Linked DNA regions of Homo sapiens: region 2 is linked to region 1. The links come from fine-mapping of genetic effects on gene expression. A gene starts in region 1. The other region holds a variant in brackets. All regions are shown on one strand. Distances are from middle to middle.

Region 1 (5,384 bases):
ATAAACACAAGAAGTACAGTGCTATTTTCATAGTGTTTAAGAAGTACTTATTATAAAATAATGTACTCTGTGTTTTATAAAAGGATCAAACAGTAAAGAAATATAAAAAATGAGAAGTTTCCCATTTCCTCTAAAATATCTGCTTTTGCTGAATCTCCTTCCCAAGAAGAATTAATAATTCTTCTGTAAGTGTTATGATATTTTGTTGTATGCAACATAATTTATATGAAAAATTAGCACACACCTCAAACTATATACCATTTATTGGATTTAAAGTGGCTATCATTTAATCATTTAAAAAGCTTTTTTTCTAAATACAGTTGTCTTTCTAAAATGTTTAAATTAGGGTTTTTGGTAGTATTATTATTGTTGAAAAGGTAATATGTGCCCATGATATAAAACTTGAACACAAAAGAGAATAAAATGTAAAGAAAATCACCTTTCCACTGCAGATCCATAGTCTCTATGACCAGAAGGATTTTTATACATATGAAATCATAAATATCTGTCTGAAAATAATGCAACATAGTATATATTCTTTTGAAAAAGTGGAAGCATGATGTATACGTTACTTTGCTTTGCTGTCTTAGATATTAGAGATCAATAGGCCAGGTGTGGTGGCTCATGCCTGTAATACCAGCACTTTGGGAGGCCAAGGCTGGTGGATCACTTGAGGCAAGGAGTTCGAGGCCAGCCTGGCCAACATGGTGAAACCCATCTCTACTAAAAATACAAAAATTAGCCAGACATGGTGGCTGCATCTGTAGTCCCAGCTACTTGGGAGGCTGAGGCAGAAGAATCTCTTGAAACCTGGAGGCAGAGGTTGCAGTGATTCGAAATGGCACCACTGCACTCCAGCCTGGGTAACAGAGCGAGACTCTGACATACCAGCACATCTCAATCTCTTCCTGCTTCTTGGCCATACTGTAGCCATCACAGAGTAGTATCATAACCAGTTAACCAGTCTTTTAAGAATGAATAATTAAGCCATTTTTCACTCTTTTGCTATTAAAAATAGTAACGTAGGTTTAAAAAGCATCCTTGCTCATCTCTGTACACATATTAAGAATATATCTAAAGGATAAATTCCTGCAAGTAAAATTTTCTACAAAAGAAATTGCTGAGTCATAGAAAGGGGATATTTTAAATCCTTGATACATATTAAGCTGCATCCAATAAAGTTTTCTCAGTTTAAGAGAGTAAAAAAGGCCTGATTTATAGCATTTGTATTGGGTGCTATCTTTTTTTTTTTTTTTTTTGAGATGGAGTCTCACTCTGTGGCCCAGGCTGTAGTGCAGTGACATGATCTCGGCTCACTGCAACCTCCGCCTCCTGGGTTCAAGCGATTCTCCTGTCTCAGGCTCCCAAGGAGCTGGGATTACAGGTGTGCACCACTACGCCCAGCTAAGTTTTGTGTTTTTTGTAGAGATGGGGTTTCACCCTGCTGGCCAGGCTGGTCTCGAACTCTTGACTTCAGGTGATTCGCCCACCTCGGCCTCCCAAAGTGCTGGGATTAATAGGCGTTAGCCAATGCACCCAGCCTAGTGCTGTCTTCTGAATGATTCTTTATTACAGTACACTAAATAAAATGTCTGTATTTATGCAACTCAGGGTTTGTCAGCAAATATTAGGAGGTAAAACTAATTGGAACTGTTTTAGACCCTTTTGGCCCCTAAATGCCATATCATATTACACAAAAATACCCACCTATAGTTATACATAAATATTGAGGTGAGTTGCAGTTGATGTTATATTTTTAAAAGAAAAATATTAATTAAATATGTATTAATATACATTAGTGTTTTGAAGTCTATCCATTTTTTCCCCCAGCCATACAAAGTTTGGTAGGATTCTAAAAGCTTGTAGGCCCTCAAGCACCACTCCTCTAGTGCTTAATGGGTTAAATGTCCCTAAAGCTAATTTGAAAAGCAAATTGCCTCATTCTTTCTCTTCATATCTTTCTTTCAAACTGTAAATTTTAAGAGCTGTTTATTCCTTATTCTCCTTGTTCTTAATTTGTTTAATAAAGTTTTAGATCTTTAGCGAATATTTTGCAACAACAGAAATATCCCCAAATTTCCTGGTGCTAGAAAACAGCCACAATAGTAAGTAGGTCAAGTCTGTATTGCTTAGGGAACAGGGAGATTTTTGTTTTAAAGCAGTGATTCTTCTGAGAGTAGGGCTCTGGGCGCAGGTGAGTGGTAAACAATCCTTTTTCCTGCAGGGATGTTGCTGTTGTGTAAAAGCAAAAGCATTTTGTGTAAGGATGTTAGGCTCCAGTAAGTATTTCAAAGCCACATTATCTTTCTCATTAGGGGGAGTTTCTCTCTGTACTTTAAAAGAAGATAATGATGCTTGAAAAAGCTCAAGATTGACTAACTTTTAGGAAGCTGCCAGAGTTGTGCATAGACGTCCTCACTACAGTAGCTTCGTTATGTCTTACGAACAATTTAACCTTCACTTCTAGTCATCGTTTCGTCATCGTAAGCACTGGGTCATTACAGAGTTCAGTGTACCTAAAACGCAAGCTGTGACTGATGAGAATCCAAGCTGCAAACTGGGCGGCTTGGGCAACTGTTTTCTTAACCACCCTCCACGTTGTGGCTTACGTCTTTTAGCACCGCCCTCAGGGCAAAGGATGGTGGTCAGAGGTAACTACCACAGTAAAAGAAGGCTATTTATGTGGTCTGTTTACAGTTACCCGGTTTCAACACTAAGCCAGCTTTCCGCCACGTCTCGGGCGAACCTCCGGCCTGAGGTCACAGAGACGCCCGGGTGGCTCTCAGGAGCCAGCATGGCAGCCTCCTCAGGACGGGTACTCAGGAATTTCGCCCGCAGGGACTAACACCACTTGGACCCAGGGACTCCAGCTTCACTCCGCTTTGTGCACTGGGTGGGGCGGTCGCGGTGACGTTTCAGGCAACGCCTCTGCTGTCAGCCAATAAGGAGCGGGAGACGCGTCGGGCCTGCGCTCAATGGGCCGCGCTGGTCCCGCCCCACTGTGATCGTGAGACTGCAGACCCGCTAATAAAATCCACCCCAACAATCGCTGTGTGCCGCTTTAGTGCGCTCGCCGTCGGCTCTACCTGCGTGCTTTAGCTCCTTCTCGCCTGATCCTTCTGTCTCTCCCAACCCCGGACACCCGGCTTCGACTGGTTATATCTTCGGTGTTCTTTTCCTCTCTTCTTCTTTCGCGGTTCAGCATGCAGGAAAAAGACGCCTCCTCACAAGGTTTCCTGCCACACTTCCAACATTTCGCCACGCAGGCGATCCATGTGGGCCAGGATCCAGAGCAATGGACCTCCAGGGCTGTAGTGCCCCCCATCTCACTGTCCACCACGTTCAAGCAAGGGGCGCCTGGCCAGCACTCGGTGAGCTGGGTCTGTCTGGGGCTGTCCACAGTTGGGCGGTAAAAGAGATACGGCTTATGAATTTGAAAGGCATGTAAGTAATTTATAATATGACTTATAAATTAGGAAGGCAACCGAAAGATGTTTCTACACTGTAATTCTTGCAGCACAGCTTTGTATCGGATGGTCCAGTGATCGTATTTCTTTTGATAAGCAGGACTGGAAGGAGCCGTTTGTCCAGCTTGCCATTTAGATTTGGCCTGAAATTCAGGTGATTTTGACAAATTTGCAATTAAAAATCGAAGGTCATAACTTTTTTGAGTTACCTTTAGCAGCATAAATTTTAAAGATGTAGTACGGAGTCAGCTTAAAAAATATTAAGGGTCTGATAACTTGACTAGAATTAAGATTGTTTCCAGTAGCTGTATGAATAGTTATTGAGTACCTACTATATGCCAAATACGTGCTCGTATATATCATGTGTATTACATGTATTGTCTCATCTAATCCTAACAACAACCCTAGTCTGAACCGAATTCTCATTTTTTCCCAATAAAGAAGCTGAGATTTAGGGAGTTAAGTAACTAGCCTTAGACTAGTAAGTATTGGAGATGGAATTCAAACTTTAGAAACTTGAGGTTGCTTTAGGAACCAACTCCTAGGCACTCAGCTACACTATGCTATCTCTAATAATGCTAGTAACAATTTAGCCTATTGCGTCATTTAAGCACTGTGGCTTAGTGATTAAGAACACAACTCATGACCGGGTGCAGTGGCTTACGCCTGTAATCCCAGCACTTTGGGAGGCTGAGGCGGGTGGATCACCTGAGGACAGGAGTTCGAGCCCAGCCTGGCCAACATGGTGAAACCCCATCTCTACTAAAAATAAATAAATTAGCTGGGCATGGTGGCGGGTAATCTCAGCTACTCGGGAAGCTGAGGCAGGAGAATCGCTTGAACCCAGGAGGCAGAGGTTGCAGTGAGCCAAGATCTCACCATTGTGCTCCAGCCTGGGTGACAAGAGTGAAACTCCAACTCAAACAACAACAGAAAAAGAGAACACAAATCTTATAGTCAAAGGCTAGGTTTGCATTCTGACACCACTTCTTCTGAGCTGGGGGACCTTGGGCAAGTTAGTTAACCTATCAAAACCTCTGACTGATCCTGTATAAATGGGGATAATAATAGTATCTACCACATAAGTTGTTGAGATGTATTTAAGGCTGTATAGTACATAATAATTACTCGATGGTAATTTGTTTTTTCATGATGTTCACATTTACACTATTTCCATTTGATCCTCACAACAACCAGGTCAGAAGGCAGGACAGGTATTATGTACTTTTTATAGAAAAGGAACTGACACAGAGTCATACATGAATGATCTGTAAAGCCTACGAAGGAGCCCTCTTTGTTAATCACATAGCTTTTTTCCCCCTTTTGGTGGCATACTTGATGGATCTTAGAGAATTTAAAAGTTGCTGAGATTTGTAAGAATTAGTTAAAGTCTGTAAGTCCAAAGCCTTGATTATGCTTTGGAAACCACTTCAGTGTGTTATATAAGTTGAGGAAAATCCTTACAGACAGTCCCTTGTTTTGTGAGATACAGTTCTAAGGCCATTTCTACAACTGGTTTAGAATACTCTTTACTGTATTTTAGAATCAAAATATGTACACAGCCTCTCTTTCTTTCTTTCTTTTTTTTTTTTTTTTATTTTTCAGAGAGAGTCTTACTCTGTCACCCAGGCTGGAGTGCAGTGGTGCGATCTCGGCTCACTGCAACCTCCGCCTCCCGGGTTCAAGCGATTCTCCGGCCTCAGCCTCCTAAGTAGCTGGGATTACAGGCGCCTGCCACTGCGCCTGACTCATTTTTTATTTTTTTTAGTAGAGACGGGGTTTCACCATGTTGGCCAGGCTGCTCTTGAACTCCTGACCTCGTGATTCACCCGCCTTGGCCTCCCAAAGTGCTGGGATTACAGGTGTGAGCCACGGCGCCCGGCTCACAGCCTCTCTTTCAAACATGCAGTTCGTTTC
Region 2 (5,384 bases), 91 kb before region 1:
GAGTTTCCAATGATATACAGAAAATGAGAAAAAATGTGTACTAGAATGAGTTTTTTCTTAATAAATTTTTTTAAAGACTATTCTTCCTACTTTTGGTTTCAAATATCTTTTTTTTAAAAATAAAATGTGGATCACAAAAGACAGTAGTTATCGTTTTTATAAAGTTCTGATAGTCTAAGATGAAAAAGTTAGATTCCCTATATCAATCACCAGTAAAAAAAATTTTTCTGGTCTGTGAAATCCAAAAAGTCTGAGAATCAATGACTTAGATAATCATTTAAAGATTCAAGTATGAATCTGACAAACCTTCCTGTTCATTATAATTTAACTTTAATGTCAAAGTTATATTACTCAAATGTAGTACAATTCTTTTTAATGGTCATTGTTTTCTACTATAAGCTCAAGTACCTTAATAAATCTTATTCAATCTACCTTGCCTTCAGATTGAAATGGACCTCAGTTGAATGCAGAGAATGAAAAGAATTCAATTCCTAGATAAAAAGGGTCTTTCAATAAAAAGCAGAGGCTACATATTTTTTTATCAGCCTGATTTTATTAACTAAATATAATTGTAACTGACTGAAGGCATTCAGTAAATAATGACCAAACATCATTTAAAAAGCTGAAGGCATTCAATAAATAACGACCAAACATCATTAAAAAGGTAATGGCAACCACTGTATATAGCACAGTATAATAACATATGCGAAGAGATTCCCTTTTCTATATGACTTCATATTGAAAAATACCATAAACTCAAACTTCTTATGGATGCACATTCAGAAAGCAATTACACAAAATTACCAATTACCAGTATCCTTTTTAGGGATCAGTATTTGTATTCCCATATTGTAAGAATTTTATTAATACTGATTAACAATGAAGATTAAAATTAGCTTTAGAGGATTTAGGTGATAAAAGAATTCATACAAAGACTCAAATGCAAAAGTCCATAAACCACAACTAATTTTACTTTCTCCTTCCTCCTTCTCCGACTGAAGTTTACAGTTTGACCTAAAGCTTTTGGAACTATGCCCTACTGCTCCAAGTATTACTTAAATCTGTTACCTTTTGCACTCCTCTTCCTTCTAAGCTCCAATCTATTTCCTGCTTCCCACCTGGACAATTCTACCTGATGTACTACAGTTGATTCAAACCCAACAAATCTAACACAAATTAAAGACCATACTGCTCTTGCTCCTATAGTCTATATATCAATTAAGTAATGAAATCACCATCAATCCATAATAGAGACCTTAGAGTTACTCTGAATCATTTTATCATTACCCATATCCAAGAGATAATCCATTCTGTTAAATCAATCTTTGTTTTTTTTTTTTTTTTTTTTTTGAGACGGAGTCTCGCTCTGTCGCCAGGCTGGAATGCAGCGGCGCAATCTTGGCTCACTGCAACCTCTGCCTCTTGGGTTCAAGCTATTCTCCTGCCTCAGTCTCCAGAGTAGCTGGGACTACAGGTGTGCGCCACCATGCCCAGCTAATTTTTGTATTTTTAGTAGAAACAGGGTTTCACCATGTTGGCCAGGATGGTCTCGATCTCTTGACATCATGATCCACCTGCCTCAGCCTCCCAAAGTTCTGGGATTGCAGGCATGAGCCACCACGCCCGGCTAAACCTTTCTTTTAATTACTTTCTGATCTATCCCTTCCTTCTCTAAAAACACTATGTCTTTAAGTCAAGCTTACCTCATTTGTTCCAAAAATGTTTTGTTCTAAATATCTCTTGCCTCCCTGACTCCGCTGTATTAATTAGAAAGTCTTTTCACTTATCTAATAATAACAAGCCCTGCTTTGAAGTCTTCTGGGGTTTTGCAGAGACTGGAAATTGGGATTAAAATCTTGACTAGCACATAAAGCTGATATCAATGTGGTCCTTTTATCATTACAACTTCATTTCCCAACACTGGTCTTTGCCCCTTCATCCATCTTTGCCATGTATCATTAAGAAGCCAAATACAGGGGCACGGTGGCTCACACCTGTAATCTCAGCACTTTGGGAGGCCGAGCCGGGTGGATTGCCTGAGGTCAGGAGTTCAAGACCAGCCTGGCCAACATAGTGAAACCCCGTCTCTACTAAAAATACAAAAAATTAGCTGGGTGTGGTGGCGGGTGCCTGTAATCTCAGCTACTCGGGAGACTGGGGCAGGAGAATTGCTTGAATCTGAGAGGCGGAGGCTGCAGAGAGCCAAGATCGCGCCATTGCATTCCAGCCTGAGCAACAAGAGGGAAACTCCATCTCAAAAAAAAAAAGAAACCAAATACATATTGTTCCCTAGCATATGC[C/CT]TTTTTTTTTTTTTAATATTTCCATGCTTTATACACATTCCACTCTCGCACAGTAGAATGCCTTTACCCACCTTTTTAACTTCTAAAACCCTTTGAGACAGCTTTAATAACCAAACACCTTGCTAAGAACCTGAATAACTTTTCCACTCATCTGTTTCCCCCAGGACTTTGTAAATACTTCAGAATGCCACAGAATATTCACTGGTCTCTCTCCCTTAAGTAGGATGACTTCCTCAATATCAAAGTTAATGGCACATCCTGACTATGTTTCTGACACATCTAGTAGGTATTCAGAACACAAATAGACAATTCCTGGCCTCATACACTCTGCCTAAAGGGAATGGGCAGAGTTCTGAGACAATATATGAGCAGAGAAAACTTCCTTGTACTTGAGCTGAGATCTGAAGAATCTTAAGGAGCTGTGACAAAAAGAGGGGGATATATAAGTATGAGGAGTATGAGAAACCAAAAAGCCAGCAGAGCTGACACATAGAAAGCCAGATGGAAAGAACAAGATGAGGAAGGAGACAAGGAAGTGATAGTATCATACTGGACCTTATAAACAAAGTTAGCAATTTTGGTCTTTGTCCTCAGAACAGGAGGTTTTAAAGAATTTTATGTAGAGAATAATATGACCAGAAGACGAAACTAAAATATAACAAAATATTAACAGTGGTTGTCTTTTTTTTTTTCTTGAGACAGGGTCTCACTTTGTCCCAGGCTCCAGGCTGGAGTGCAGTGGCACAATGTCAGCTCACCACAGCCTCAGCCTCCCAGGCTCAAGTGGATCCTCCCATCTCAGCTCCCAAGTAGCTGGGGCCACATACGCACATCACCATGCCTGGCTAATTTTTGTATTTTTTTGTAGAGACAGGTTTTTGCCATGCTGCTTAGGCTGGTCTTGAACTCCCAGGCTCAAGCGACCCACCTGTCTCGGCCTCCCAAAGTGCTGGGATTATAGGCATGCCCCACCACACCTGACCCAACAGTGGTTATCTTTGAGTGATATTATTTTCTTTTCTTTTCCCTATAATTCCTAATTTTCTACGATGAATGTCATCATTTTCTTATAAGAAAAAACAAAGTTTTGAAAACTCAGGAGAGTTGTGATAAATAAAAGTCCTACTATAATACTTTACTTTTTTCTTTTTTTTTTTAGACAGGGTCTCACTCTGTCACCCAGGTTGGAGTGCAGTGGCGTGATCTCAGCTCACTGCTACCTCCACCTCCCAGGGTCAAGCAATCCTCCCACCTCAGGCTCCCGCGTAGCTGGGACTACAGGCACACACTACCACACCAGCTAATTTTTGTACTTTTTGTAGTGTTGGGGTCCCCCTATGTTTCCCAGGCTCAAGCAATCTGCCTGCTTTGGCCTCCCAAAGCGCTGGGGTTACTGGCATCTAATATAATACTTTAAAGAAAAATTTTGATTCTTGATACACAGTCTCGAATTTTCTTTGTAGTTTTTATTCATCTCTTCATTAATTCATTAAACAAATATTGTACCAGAGATAAAGGGGTGAATAAGATAACATATGCATGACTTGAAGTCTCACAAAGCTTATATTATCAAGATACACAGAGTAGGGAACACATACTGAAAAATTAATTAGAAGTATGCAACATATTGCAAAGGAAAAGACTAAACCACTTTGAAAATGTACAAGAAGAAGAACTTAACCTACTCTAGAAGTTGAGAAAAGCCTTCTCTCAAAAAGAAATTTAAAATTGAAGGCTAAATGAAGACTTCTAGTTCAATGTAAGATGGCAAACCAATATGAACTGCTGTCTCTTCCTCCACATTAACACCTTTGATGTGCCACAAAAATAAGACAAAGGCCGACAGAATTCCCAAAACTACCATAACACAAGTATACCATGACATAAGTCTGCACAAACTGTGAACAACTTCTGGAGAGACAAAAGACAACTAGATCCCAGAGTGCATAAAGAAACCAGAGCTGTCTCGATCAGAGAAAGCTAGGAACCATGGGTGAGGGATAAATTGTGGGAAAAAAAGGCTTTTTAGTTGTATCCATATCTCTATCTCATACTGGTCTGGGCTGATCACTGTTTACCAGGTAACCACTGTAAGGCAGAAAAGCAACATAATCTTGAAATTTTATTATTAATTAGTGAAATGATTCTAAACAGTCTCTGACAAGTAGTTTGCATTGTCTGTTTTGTGGTACAAGAATGTTAGCAAAATTATCAGAAATCAGAAGAAATGGACACAAAAATAGGTCACAAAGTTTTTGCCAGTAATTAATAATATTAGATTATCTCTGATTTTTCAAAAAACATAAAATGTTAATGTAACACAAGCCAAAAAATCAAAAACTTAAATCACAGTGCTTAAGATAATTTCAAAGTACAGACATAGCCGGGCATGGTGGCTCACGCCTGTAATCCCAGCACTTTGGGAGGCCGAGGCAAGTAGATTACCTGAGGTCAGGAATTCGAGACCAGCCTGGCCAACATGGTGAAACCCCATCTCTACTAAAAATACAAAAATTAGTTGGGCACTGTGGCAGGTGCCTGTAGTCCCAGCTACTCAGGAGAACCGCTTGAACTCGGTCTCAAAAAAAATAAATAAATAAAAATAAGTACAGACATATGTTTAACACCATTATACATTTATATTAATATTTCTAATAAACCGTAAGAGATATTCAATTAATTATCCTTTAAGTTAGCAGTTAAGTATTTGTTTCATGTGATGGAAAGTAATGAAAATATAAGCACCGAGCAATTATGGTTATATAATTACATAATAATGGACAATGGGATATTATTTAGAATGGCTAAGGTATCACTCTACATAAGAAAATCACTTTAAGAACAGACCTCAACTATCTGAGCCTCAATCTTTTACCTTTAAATTGATTGTTAAATATCCTTTAACTAATTTTCCATGAAAATTTTGTTTATTGGCCTTCCCAATAATTATGAATTCTTAAACAGAAGAGACCAGGTCTTTTATTCTCCACATCTTAATACACACACATGCTTTATAGTAAGGACTCAGTAAATACTGACTCTGAGTAAAGAATCCTTGAGGCCGGGCGCAGTGGCTCACACCTG

Alleles and levels. Alleles are on the strand shown, and positions count from the first base shown. SD is a standard deviation of normalised expression in the study named.
With allele C in place of CT in region 2, the expression in Th2 cells of the gene that starts at base 3,056 in region 1 is higher (large effect, 0.87 SD a copy in Schmiedel 2018).

What was found. PIP is the estimated chance that this variant, and not a neighbour inherited with it, causes the effect.
Region 2: its variant is the best candidate, but not a certain one, in a credible set for the expression of CTH in Th2 cells (Schmiedel 2018, PIP 0.65).

Annotation. Positions count from the first base shown.
Region 1 is chr1:70,408,213-70,413,596 of GRCh38, forward strand. CTH (cystathionine gamma-lyase) reads left to right here and starts at 3,056. Exons shown (of 12, transcript NM_001902.6): 1 at 3,056-3,371. The coding sequence starts at 3,204. RefSeq lists an enhancer at 2,627-2,886 and a silencer at 2,947-3,096.
Region 2 is chr1:70,317,352-70,322,735 of GRCh38, forward strand. All of the region lies in intron 3 of ANKRD13C (ankyrin repeat domain 13C), which reads right to left. Among named protein-coding and RNA genes, the nearest start is that of ANKRD13C, 35 kb to the right of the region's middle. The variant C/CT (reference allele first, on the strand shown) is at 2,301.